Regions from separate parts of the Homo sapiens genome. Here region 2 is linked to region 1. Evidence: fine-mapped expression QTL. Tissue or cell type: prefrontal cortex. Region 1 holds a variant in brackets; the other region holds the start of a gene. All regions are shown on one strand. Distances are between the middles of the regions.

Evidence for each region. PIP is the estimated chance that this variant, and not a neighbour inherited with it, causes the effect.
Region 2: it holds the start of TSPAN14, and the variant in region 1 is fine-mapped to the expression of TSPAN14 in prefrontal cortex (CommonMind, PIP 0.95).

The regions. Positions count from the first base shown.
Region 1 is chr10:80,510,645-80,515,741 of GRCh38, reverse strand. It overlaps TSPAN14 (tetraspanin 14), which reads right to left. Exons shown (of 9, transcript NM_030927.4): 6 at 3,473-3,598; 7 at 1,679-1,723. Among named protein-coding and RNA genes, the nearest start is that of TSPAN14-AS1, 23 kb to the left of the region's middle. The variant CAACAACAACAAA/A (reference allele first, on the strand shown) is at 2,859.
Region 2 is chr10:80,451,148-80,456,244 of GRCh38, reverse strand. It overlaps TSPAN14 (tetraspanin 14), which reads right to left and starts at 1,935. Exons shown (of 9, transcript NM_030927.4): 1 at 1,874-1,935. RefSeq lists enhancers at 820-869, 900-1,159, 1,109-1,626, 2,370-2,579 and a silencer at 1,290-2,339.

The sequences.
Region 1 (5,097 bases):
TCGCCAGCCAACCAGCTCCCTCCACTGCTAACCCCGGTGGGGTGTCAGTAACCATCCCAGCACACACCCCAGCCCTGCCCACCCCACACAGGGCAATCGGCCCCAGCCCCCTCACACCTATCAGCCTCCTCCATGGCAACATGATGGAGTATTAGCCCCTAATTTTAGAGGTGTTAGGAGCTAAATTGTGTCCTCAAAATCCATACACTGAAGTCCTAACCCCCAGGACTTCAGAAGGTGACTGTATTTGTAGACAGGCTCTTTACAGAGGTAATTATGCTAAAATGAGGCCATCAGGGTGCCCCCTAATCCAATATGAAGAGCATCCTGCTAAGAGGAGGAGATCAGGACACAGACATGCACAGAGGGGAGCCCACGTGAGGACACAGGGAGAGGACAGCCACCTGCAGCCAGGAGAGAGGCCTGGAACAGACCCTTCCATCACAGCCCTCTGAAGGCACCCACCTCACCTCGCCAGCACCTTGATCTTGGACTTCTAGCCTCCAAACTGTGAGAAAATAAATGCCTGCTGTGGCTTAAATTTCTGTCTGTGGTATGTTGTGACAGCAGCCTTAGCAAATTAATATAAGTGGCAAAAAAAATCATAATTAGGGAAGCTGATGTTGATATAGGTTCTTATCTTAGTCCATTCAGGCAACTAGAATAAAATACTATAGATTAGGTGGCTTATAAACAACAGAAATTTATTTCTCACAGTCCTGGAGGCCGGGAAGTTCAAGATCAGGACACTGGCAAATTCAGTGTCGGATGAGGGCCCACTTTCTGGTTCATGGATGGCACCCTCTCACTGTGTCTTCACACAGTGGAGTGACAAATAAGCTCTCTGGGCCTCTTACATAAGGACACTCATCCCACTCATAAGGACTCTGCCCTCATGACCCAATCCCCTCCCCAAGACCCCACCTCTTAAATACCATCACATTGGAGTTTAAGTTCCAACATGTGAATTTTGGAGAGACACACACATTCAGTTTACAGCACTTTCTCCCTGTGAAATGCAGGTCCCTAAAGGAGGACAGTTCCCCAAGCTGTAGGGACACATCCCTCATATCCACGGCTAACAGGTGGGGTCTCTGAAGATTCCTCGAGACTCCTCCCTTTTAGAACAGCAGTCATTCATATCACCAAAGACCACTAGAACAAGGACTGGAGTGGGGTGGGGTCTTCCTTCTCTTTGCATCTAAGAGCACACTCCCTACAGCCTAAAGGAAGTCCTGGAGGACAGAGCCTCGCCCCTGCCCCAGGCCTGCCTCCCTCTTTGTCACTACTGCCTCCACACGGAGGCCAGAACAAGGCACCTACACTCCTGCAGCTGTCCCCTTAACGAGAGACGTCTTCTGGGATGCCAAGGAGCCTCCTAAAAATGCAGTCTTTGTCCCTCAAAACTTCCATCCCACCTCTTTAAATGCAGCAACTCCTAGATGTTGGGACTGCAGCTCACAAGGCTTAGAATCACCATTACTGCTCCCAGGAGTCCTGCCGCCAGCTCAGGAAGCAGTGTATGTGACCCTGTGCCTATGCTCAGCTTAGGTGGCATCAAGAGCTTCACTGCCCTGAGTTTTCCCACTTCAATTTGCACTCGTGCTAAATCAGAATGTTGAACCACAGGGAATAAAACCTAAAGAACTCTTCAAGTTGTATACATGGGAGTTCTCACCTGAATCCTGACATCATATCCACACTGTGTGTTCACAACTTTTTGCTGCAAGAAAAGCAGAAAAATTAGTTGCTTCTGGCGTCTCAAGAAGCTGGTGCTAAGAGGCTCTAGTAAAGTCACAACCAAACACTAGCAAACATTTGTGCAAATTCCATTACAGCTCATGTCCTTCAATCATGCCACCAACTAATCCTTCAGACCAGGACAGGGTGGCAAACTTTCTCTGTGAAGGGCTAGAGAGTGAGTACTTCAGACACAGACTCAATTCCGCTTTTGTTGCATGAGAGCCGGCACTGACAATCTGTAAACAAACAGGAATGGCTGTATTTCAAGAAAACTTTATGGACACTGAAATTTGAATTTCATATAATTTTCACGTACCACAAAATATTATTCTTCTTTTGATTTATTTCCAACCATTTAAAAACATCTGAATGCATTCTTAACTCACAGGTCATGGAAAAATAGCAAGCCAGATTTGGCCTGGGGGCCACAGTTTGCTAGGAGGTAAGACCTATACTTGGAGGTAAGAACTATATGTGCTAAAAGCAACACTTACAAGACTGGTACATTTCACAGTCGCAGTGGAGACCTCAGAAGAGCTGTGCAGCTTCAGCAAATCTGAGCCTCTCCTGGGCTGCAGAACTTGCCCATATAATAGTGGTGATGCTCTGCCTTCTCAAAGCCTGTAACCCAGGACCAGGCTTTGCATAACTGCACCGAGAGCTGGCAACTGGCCCAGTTCTACTCAGGCTCAGTTCAGGCAAAATTCAGAGCTCCTTCACAGTTCACCCCAAGAACCCAGCTTCTGGAACCCAAGGACGTTGGCCTTGGATTGGGAATGCCAATAGGTAAAGAAAGGACAGGACAGGCACAGCGGCCCACACCTGTAATCCCAGCACTTTGGGAGGCTAAGATGGGCAGATCGCTTTGAGCCCAGGAGTTTAAGACCAGCCGGGGCAACATGGTGAAACCCCATCTCTACAAAAAATACAAAAATTAGCCAGGTGTGGTGCTCAAGCCTGTGGTCCCAGCTACTTGGGAGGTTGAGGCTGGAGAATTGCTTGAGCCCGGGGAAGCAATGGTTGTACAGTGAGCTGAGATCGCACCACTGCACTCCAGCCTGAGTGACAGAGTGAGACACTGTCTCTAAAATAAAACCAAACAACAACAACAACAA[CAACAACAACAAA/A]CAGAAAATAATTAGCCGGGTGTGGTGGCGTGCACCTGTAATCCCAGCTACTCAGGAGGCTGAGGCAGGAGAATCGCTTGAACCCAGGAGACAGAGGTTCCAGTGAGCCAAGATCATGCCACTACACTCCAGCCTGGGCGACACAGCAAGACCCTGTCTCAAAAATAAAAGAAAGAGAAAAAGAAAGAAAATAATTCTCCACTACTGTTCCCCAGTTAATGATGTGTACCCACAGCCCCCGTGCACTGTTGAGTTCTAGGAATCTGCTCCAGAAAAAGGACAGGGAAGAGGGATAAGCGGGCCTTATTTCACTCATAGCTCTTGGCCAGCTGCAAGTGACAGCCCTCCAGGTAGAAATAATACTGTTTTTCTCCTGCCTCACCCAGAACACCAAGGCCAGGGTGGGTCATGCAAGCAGTGTTCCTAGAATGTACACATATCGGATTTCAGAGCTGAGGCAGCCTTGAGGAGGGTGTGGAGAAAGCACACCTGCTCCTCAGACCTCCATGACAGAGAAGTATCCTAGAGCACTGGAGGAGTCAGGAAAGCTTCTGGGCTTCAGGAAGGGCGGGCTCCCTGTGCCCCAGCACAAGCCAACTCACCGCAGGATCTGGCACGCAGCAGGAGAAGGGGACCCCGCACTTCTCTCGGCTGTAGCTGGCACCGCTGCAATTGAAGTAGACGTTGAGGTCCCAGTCTTCAGGGCCATATGCGCCACAGCACTGGTTCTGCAACCACAAAAGCCAGAACTGTTAGGGGCTCCAAGACAGGGCCATGGCTGCCCAGCATAGGGCATCATTCATAGTGATGCCAGGCTAAGTCTGCCGGCATCTACCATGCAGAGAAATCAAGGCCCGCCCCCTACCTCCCATGTGCAGAGATGCTAAGCTGGCAACCCAGGCAGCCCTTTAAGAAGAAAACAGCTAGGCGTAGTAGCTCAGGCCTGTAACCTCAGTGACTCGGGAGGTTGAGGTGGGAAGATGGTTTGAGCCCAGGAGTTGGAAACAAGTCTGGGCAACACAGCAAGACCCCCACCCCCAATCAGAAAGAAAGAAAGGAAAGAGAGAGAGAAAGAGAAAAGGAGAGAAAGAAAAAAGGGGAGAGAGAGAGAGAGAGAGAGAGAGAGAGAGAGAGAGAGAGAGAGAGAGAGAGAGAGAGAGGACCTGCCCTTTTGATGTGTTAAAGAAAATAATAACAAAAAGGAAATGGCAGTGAAGGTATCTCCGGGCCACGGTGCCTCCTCTGTCCAACCCACATGGCTGGCTCAGTGGAGCCCTCTGGCCCCACTGCCAGGCACAACATACCCAGCCCTGGCCCTCCTTAGCAGGGAGCTTGCTCTTCTTCCCAGCCTCCTCAAAGGAGACGCCTCCTTCCAGCCTCCTCAGACAGGAGAGTGGCGTCCTCTCCTTTGTGGCCCCCTCGGCACCTTGGTGTGGTCCTCTACTTGCCACAAGAGAACACTTCCTAGTGTGCAGTGTTCTTCCTCCCTGAGAAACTTGCAAGTGAATTCCCCTTTTCACCCCTTTACAAAAAACAGCTGCTAAGTGTCTGCTCCTGAGGAAAAGAGGTCCGATGAAGGTGAAAGGTAACACAATCAAAGCTCTGCCCCACACCTGGGGCCTCTGCCCTCCCCTTCCTCGCATCTGGTGTGGCTACAAAGAAAATCCTTATTTGACTAAAAAGTGTGTAAAATCCAAACACTGAAAGCATCATTGTGAAGTTGACAGTGTCTTTTCCCCTAAAAAACTTCTTTGCATTTGCCCTTACAGCTGACATGGTTATGGCAATAATCACAACAAATGACAACAGTGATTTCTGGTTGGTTATTTTGTTTTGCTTACTTCTCAGGTAAAATTGTCTCCCCCACACCTCCACGGTTCCACTTGCTTTAGTGATTACCTGAAATTTCACTCCAAGGAAGCTCTGTAATTTACTGAATCCCTCCCCTGGGAAGTTTTGTTTTGTTTTGTTTTAATTTATTTATTTTATCTTTTTTTTGAGACGGAGTCTTGCTCTGTTGACCAGGCTGGACTGCAGTGGCGTGATCTCGGCTCACTGCCAGTTCCGCCTCCCGGGTTCACACCATTCTCCTGCCTCAGCCTCCCGAGTAGCTGGGACTACAGGTGCCCACCGCCACACCCCACTAATTTTTTGTATTTTTAGTAGAGATGGGGTTTCACCATGTTAGCCAGGATGGTCTCGATCTCCTGACCTTGTGATCCACCCG
Region 2 (5,097 bases), 59 kb after region 1:
CCTAAATGATCCTGCTACGCTGAGATCAAGCTCAGATCAATAAACACTACTGAGCACCTATGCCATGTCCAGCCTGGGTTCTAAGACCACACCAAGTTCATAGCTGGTGAGGGACTTTCCAGACTTGGAATAGTGCCTGCAACAATGCCTCGCACCCCACAGAAATCTCAACCATGCTTTGTTAACTAAACTGAGGATGACATTAGGTGGCCCAAGCAGTGGAGTTCAGAGATGTGGGGATGGATATATCCAGAGTCTCCAACTGAAGTTGGGGTGCAACACAATGAGAAGGAAAGGGAAAATACATCTGGTGGCCCTGGGTTTCCAGGGCCTGTCACTATAACGTTAGGGATCGGAGTGGGATCAGACTGCGCGTGGTGGCTCACACCTGTAATCCCTGTGCTTTGGGAGGCTGAGGTGGGAGGATCACTTGAGCCCAGCAATTTGAGGCTATGATCACACCAGCAGCTAAGGGGATAGAAGGGCATACAGGGCCATTATGGTGGAGTCTGGGCTTCATTCTGGGGGTGCCAGGGCCCAGGAAGATCCCTGGAAAGACGGCCGCCCCCACCAACCACTCGGCTAGCTGAAATGTGGCAAGGACATAGGGGTGCTCCGATGGCCTGTCCCCAGGTTTCCCTTCACAAATAGAGAAGGGTGGCCGGAGCACTCAGCAGGCACTAACTGCTTCTGGACTTCAAGGTCAAGGGGCAAGGGGAAGGCTACTTTTGAGGATTTGGCAGGCCACTCTCTCACTAGCCCAAGAGCAACTCCCTCTCGGAAGGGAGGAAGATCCCCTGGAGAGCAGACCACTGCCAAGAGCACACCTGCAGAGGCTCCAATACAATGCTCTGCACAGCCGCCCAGCACCGCCTGACCTCCCGGATAGCAGCGCCAGCACAGCCAACGAGTGTGTGACACCGCCGCACTCACCACCGCTCTGCGCCCAGCCCCAGGCCAGTACCCGGGCCCACGACTTCCCCCGACTCCCCCTAGCACGGACTGTTTCTCGCCGGAGATCAACTTTAAGTCCCCAAGACAAGTGCTCCTGCGGTCCCAGGGCCAAAGTCCCTCCACACACCCTCACACAGGCACTTCCTACCCACCCGCACCCCACCCCTGGGGGTGGAGGAGAAGCAGCAGCGGCCCGGGACAAGCACAGTCCGCAGCCACAAACCTCACTCTACCAGAACTCCGGCTAGGTCAGGGGTCAGGCTTTGCTCCCAAACACAACCCCACACGACTAACGCGGAGAAGCTGGGTCACCGCCTACTCAAACTCCGGCCGTCCCAAACCCAAGCCGGGCAGAGTGGGACCCACGGCGGCGTGGGAGACTGAGCACAACCACGGCGGGGCAGGAGGAAGGGGCGGCCCGCCCCGGCCTACGCCCACCCCCACCCCGGACCCGATCTCCTGGGAGCCGAGGGTGGGTGACTGAGCCGAAAGGGTGGCCCATCCCCGAGCTCGCTGCTGGGGACGAGAAGCAGAGCCCCGAGCAGCAGCGGCCGTCCAGGCTCCCGTCGCCCTCACCCCGCCCGGCACGGGCGCGCACTCGCCGGGGCGCGCTGATGGGGCGAGGGCTACCGAACCAGGAGTGCCGGCCCCGGGCCCGCCGCGGCTCTCGTCCGCGCGGCGCCGGAGTTCGGCTCAGCGGGGTCCCGGCGGAGGCCTCCAACCTCTAGCGAGCAATCCTGGCAGACAAAGCCAGCGCCGCCCGCGGGGCCGCTCCTGGGCAGGCGGGGAGGGAGGCTGAGGGGCCAAACAGGGACCTAAGGAGCAGCCCTCGCCCCCGGAGAACGCTCGGGGAAGTCGGCCTCAGACAAAGAAAGGGGCAGGGCCCGACGCCCCAGCCAGGTCTCCGCGCTCTACTCACCCGCGCGCGGCGGCGGCAGCGGCGGCGCGGCCCGGCTCGGCCGAGGAAGTTAGAGCAAGTTCCGCGGCGCGGGGCGGGAGGGCGCGACTCGGGCCGTCCGAGCGGCGGGGGCGGGGCGCGGAGGGGCGCGGAGGGGCGGGGCCGGAGGCGCGGCGCCTGCCGTCTGCCGAGGAAGGGGCGCCGCTTCCCTGCGCCGCCCGGTGCGGCCCCGGGCGCCTGGGCCCGCCCTGGCCCCGCCCCTCCCCCAGCCGCCTCGCCCCTCCCCCACCGCACCCCGCCTCCCGGCCCGCGCGGCACCGGGGACCGCGAGGCCGGGTCGCCGGCCCGCCCCTTTGTCCCGCTCTGGGCGGTGCCGGAGGCTTGGGGCGGCCCCGGTCCGCGCCCTCCCAGTGGGTGCGCGGCGCAGGCCGGGCCTGGCCCGGGGCCGGGCACTTGTAGCCGCCGGGAGCGCTCTGAGCCGTTGCGCTGCGCAGACGCCGCTCTGGCCTTGTCGGAGCCGAACCTGGGAGAAGCACGAGCTGTGGGAGGCGGCGTCTCGAGGGATACACGGGATGACCGTGGAGAGCGGGCGAAGGATTAGGAAAATGGCTGTGGTGGAGATAAGAGGCGTTCCTGCCCGGCTTTGGAGCCTGGGGGCGGGGGTAGTCTTCAATCAAAAGAAGGATGGGGAAAAGGTTTTTATTTCTTTGTAAACCAAGGAGTAAGGACACGCTCCTTCTGGCCTTGGTGCTAAAAATACCAAGCTTTCTTTGGATCGTGGCTGAGATTTCTTCCTAACCTTTACGCTAAAGAGGTGGCTGGGACGATTCTTGTGGTGTAGGGGGGTTTCCAGGGACAGCCAGGGGTGGCGCCCCTCTTTGGATCGTGGCTGAGATTTGTTCCTCACCTTTACGCTAAAGAGATGGCTGGGACGATTCCTGTGGGGTAGAGGGGTTTCCAGGGATAGCCAGGGGCGGCTCCCCAGCCTCAGCCTCCCTACCTGTAGAATGAAGCATGCCACACCTCTGTTTCTTAAACTTATTCGGTGGCTGAGGGCCGAGTGGTCTTCTCTGTTGAGTAACACCAAACAGGGATCTATTAAAACTGGGCTAAGACTGGTTGCCACATGCCAGTACAAGCAACCAACAGGTTAATTCCAATGGAAGGAGGAAATCTTGAAATGGAGACTGTTCAGTCCATTCCCAGGTTTGTTTGGGTTGTTTTTTGAGCTAAGGTATCGCTTTGTCACCCAGGCTGGAGTGCAGTGGCATGACCATGGCTCACTGCAGCCTCGACCTCCCGCCTCAGCTTCCCCAAGTAGCTGGGACCACAGGTGCAGGCCACCACACCTAGCTAATTTTTTTTTTTTTTTTTTTGTAGAGACGAGATCTTGCTGTGTTGCCAGTGATGGTCTTAAATTCCTGGGCTTAAGCAATCCTTCCGCCTCTGCCTCCCAGAGTGCTGGAATTACACGCATGAGCCACGGTGCCTGGCTAATTTTATTTGTTTGTTTAATTAAGAGGGATGCAACCTGTCTGTGACAGCCCAGGCAGCTCTGGAAACTCCCTGGGAACCTGTCCATTCATTCAGCAGATAGTGAGTGTTTGTCTGAGTGCCTGATAATATGCCAGGCCCTGTGTGCATGGTGGGATACTTCAGTGAACAAGACAGCTGAGGCCTTTTGCCCAATAAAGTTAATTTTTAGTGGAGAAGACAAATACATAATCACAAGTTGAAGTAAAGGCTGGGACAAAAACAAGGGGCTAGAATAGAGAATAAAAGCTACCTTAGATGAAGCAGTCAGGGAAAGTGAGGAGGCGATGCTGAAATTGAAGTCAAAAGAGTAAGGAGTTAGCCTTGGGAAAAGTTGGGCAGAGACATTCCTCGCTGAGAGCAGTAGGTGCCTTTTCAGGGTAAGTTCTGGATGGGTCAGGGAACTGAAAGAAAATCAGTGTGGCTGAAGTTTTAAGCCTAGGGGAAGAGGCCCAGGATGGAGTGAGAAGGTGGGTGGGGGCCAAAGCATGCAGGGCCTGTGGGCTGTGTCAAAGAATGGAGACTTTGTTGAGCCTTGGAAGGGTTTTATGCAGAAGACTAACATGTTCTGATTTAAGGCTGTGTGTGGGTGTCAGGCAAAAATAAAAGCAGGGAGCCAATTAGGCTTGCCACAATCCAGGCCAAAGATGATGGTGGTTTGAACCAAAGTGGTGGTCATGCTAAGATGAGTAGTTGAGAGATGCTATTTTGGACTTAAGAGGACACATTGATAGGAAGGACATGGGGGCAGGAAATGGAGAAACCAAAGATAACTCAAGTTTCTGGCTGGGGTAAGTGGGTGGATAGTGCTTCATTTATTGGATCAAAAAGCATGAACCACATCTCAGGGAGTTACATCAGGAATTCTGTTCAAGCCACATGGAGCTTCAGATGCCTGTTAGAGAACCAGCGGGGTTATCTCATCACTAGGAACTCAGAAGAGAGGCCAGGGCGGGAGAGGGGCTTTGGGATACATCAGCATAAAGATGCTCAAGGCCACGGGATCTGAGAAGGACACACAGGGTGAGGGAGTAGATGCAGAAGAGGAGAGAGTTCAGGAGGGACCCAGGGGAACCAAAGCAGGCAAGAAGACTGAAAAAGAGACTGGGGAGGCAGAAGGAGAATCAGGAGTATCCCAGAGACTGAGAAAATGTTTCCAGAAAGCAGTTGTCAGCTGTGTTAGACACTGCTTAGAGATCAGGTAAGATGAGGACTGGGACCTGTTGGCTCTGGCAACATGAAGGCAATTGGTGAACATGATGAGGGCAGTGTTCCTGGAGTAGTGGTGGAAGCCATGCTGTGGTAGAGCTACCATATTTGCACAACTTGTCTAACAGGGAATGGAGAACTGGGAGGGATCTAGAAAGGATACGGAAGCATAGGATGCTTTGGTAGAGATTGCTAGATGCCCCTAGTAGTAATTCTCTCTTCCCTTCATAGAATTTCTAATTCTGTCTGGCCACATGGCTTCCCAGAATAAAGGCAAGTTTCTCAGCCTCTCTTGCAGCTACACTTCATTCCTCCCAATAGGAAGTAAGTGTAGGAGTCCATGTGCAAATTCAAAACTGGCTTTAAAGGGAAGTCATGTGCTTTACTCTTTCCTGCCCACTAGGATATATTAATAGATAGCTGGAGCTCAAGCATCCATATTGGATCTTAAGTGGAAGCCAAAGTGTTGAGGATGTTAGTGGAAGTGAGAATAAATGTGGATG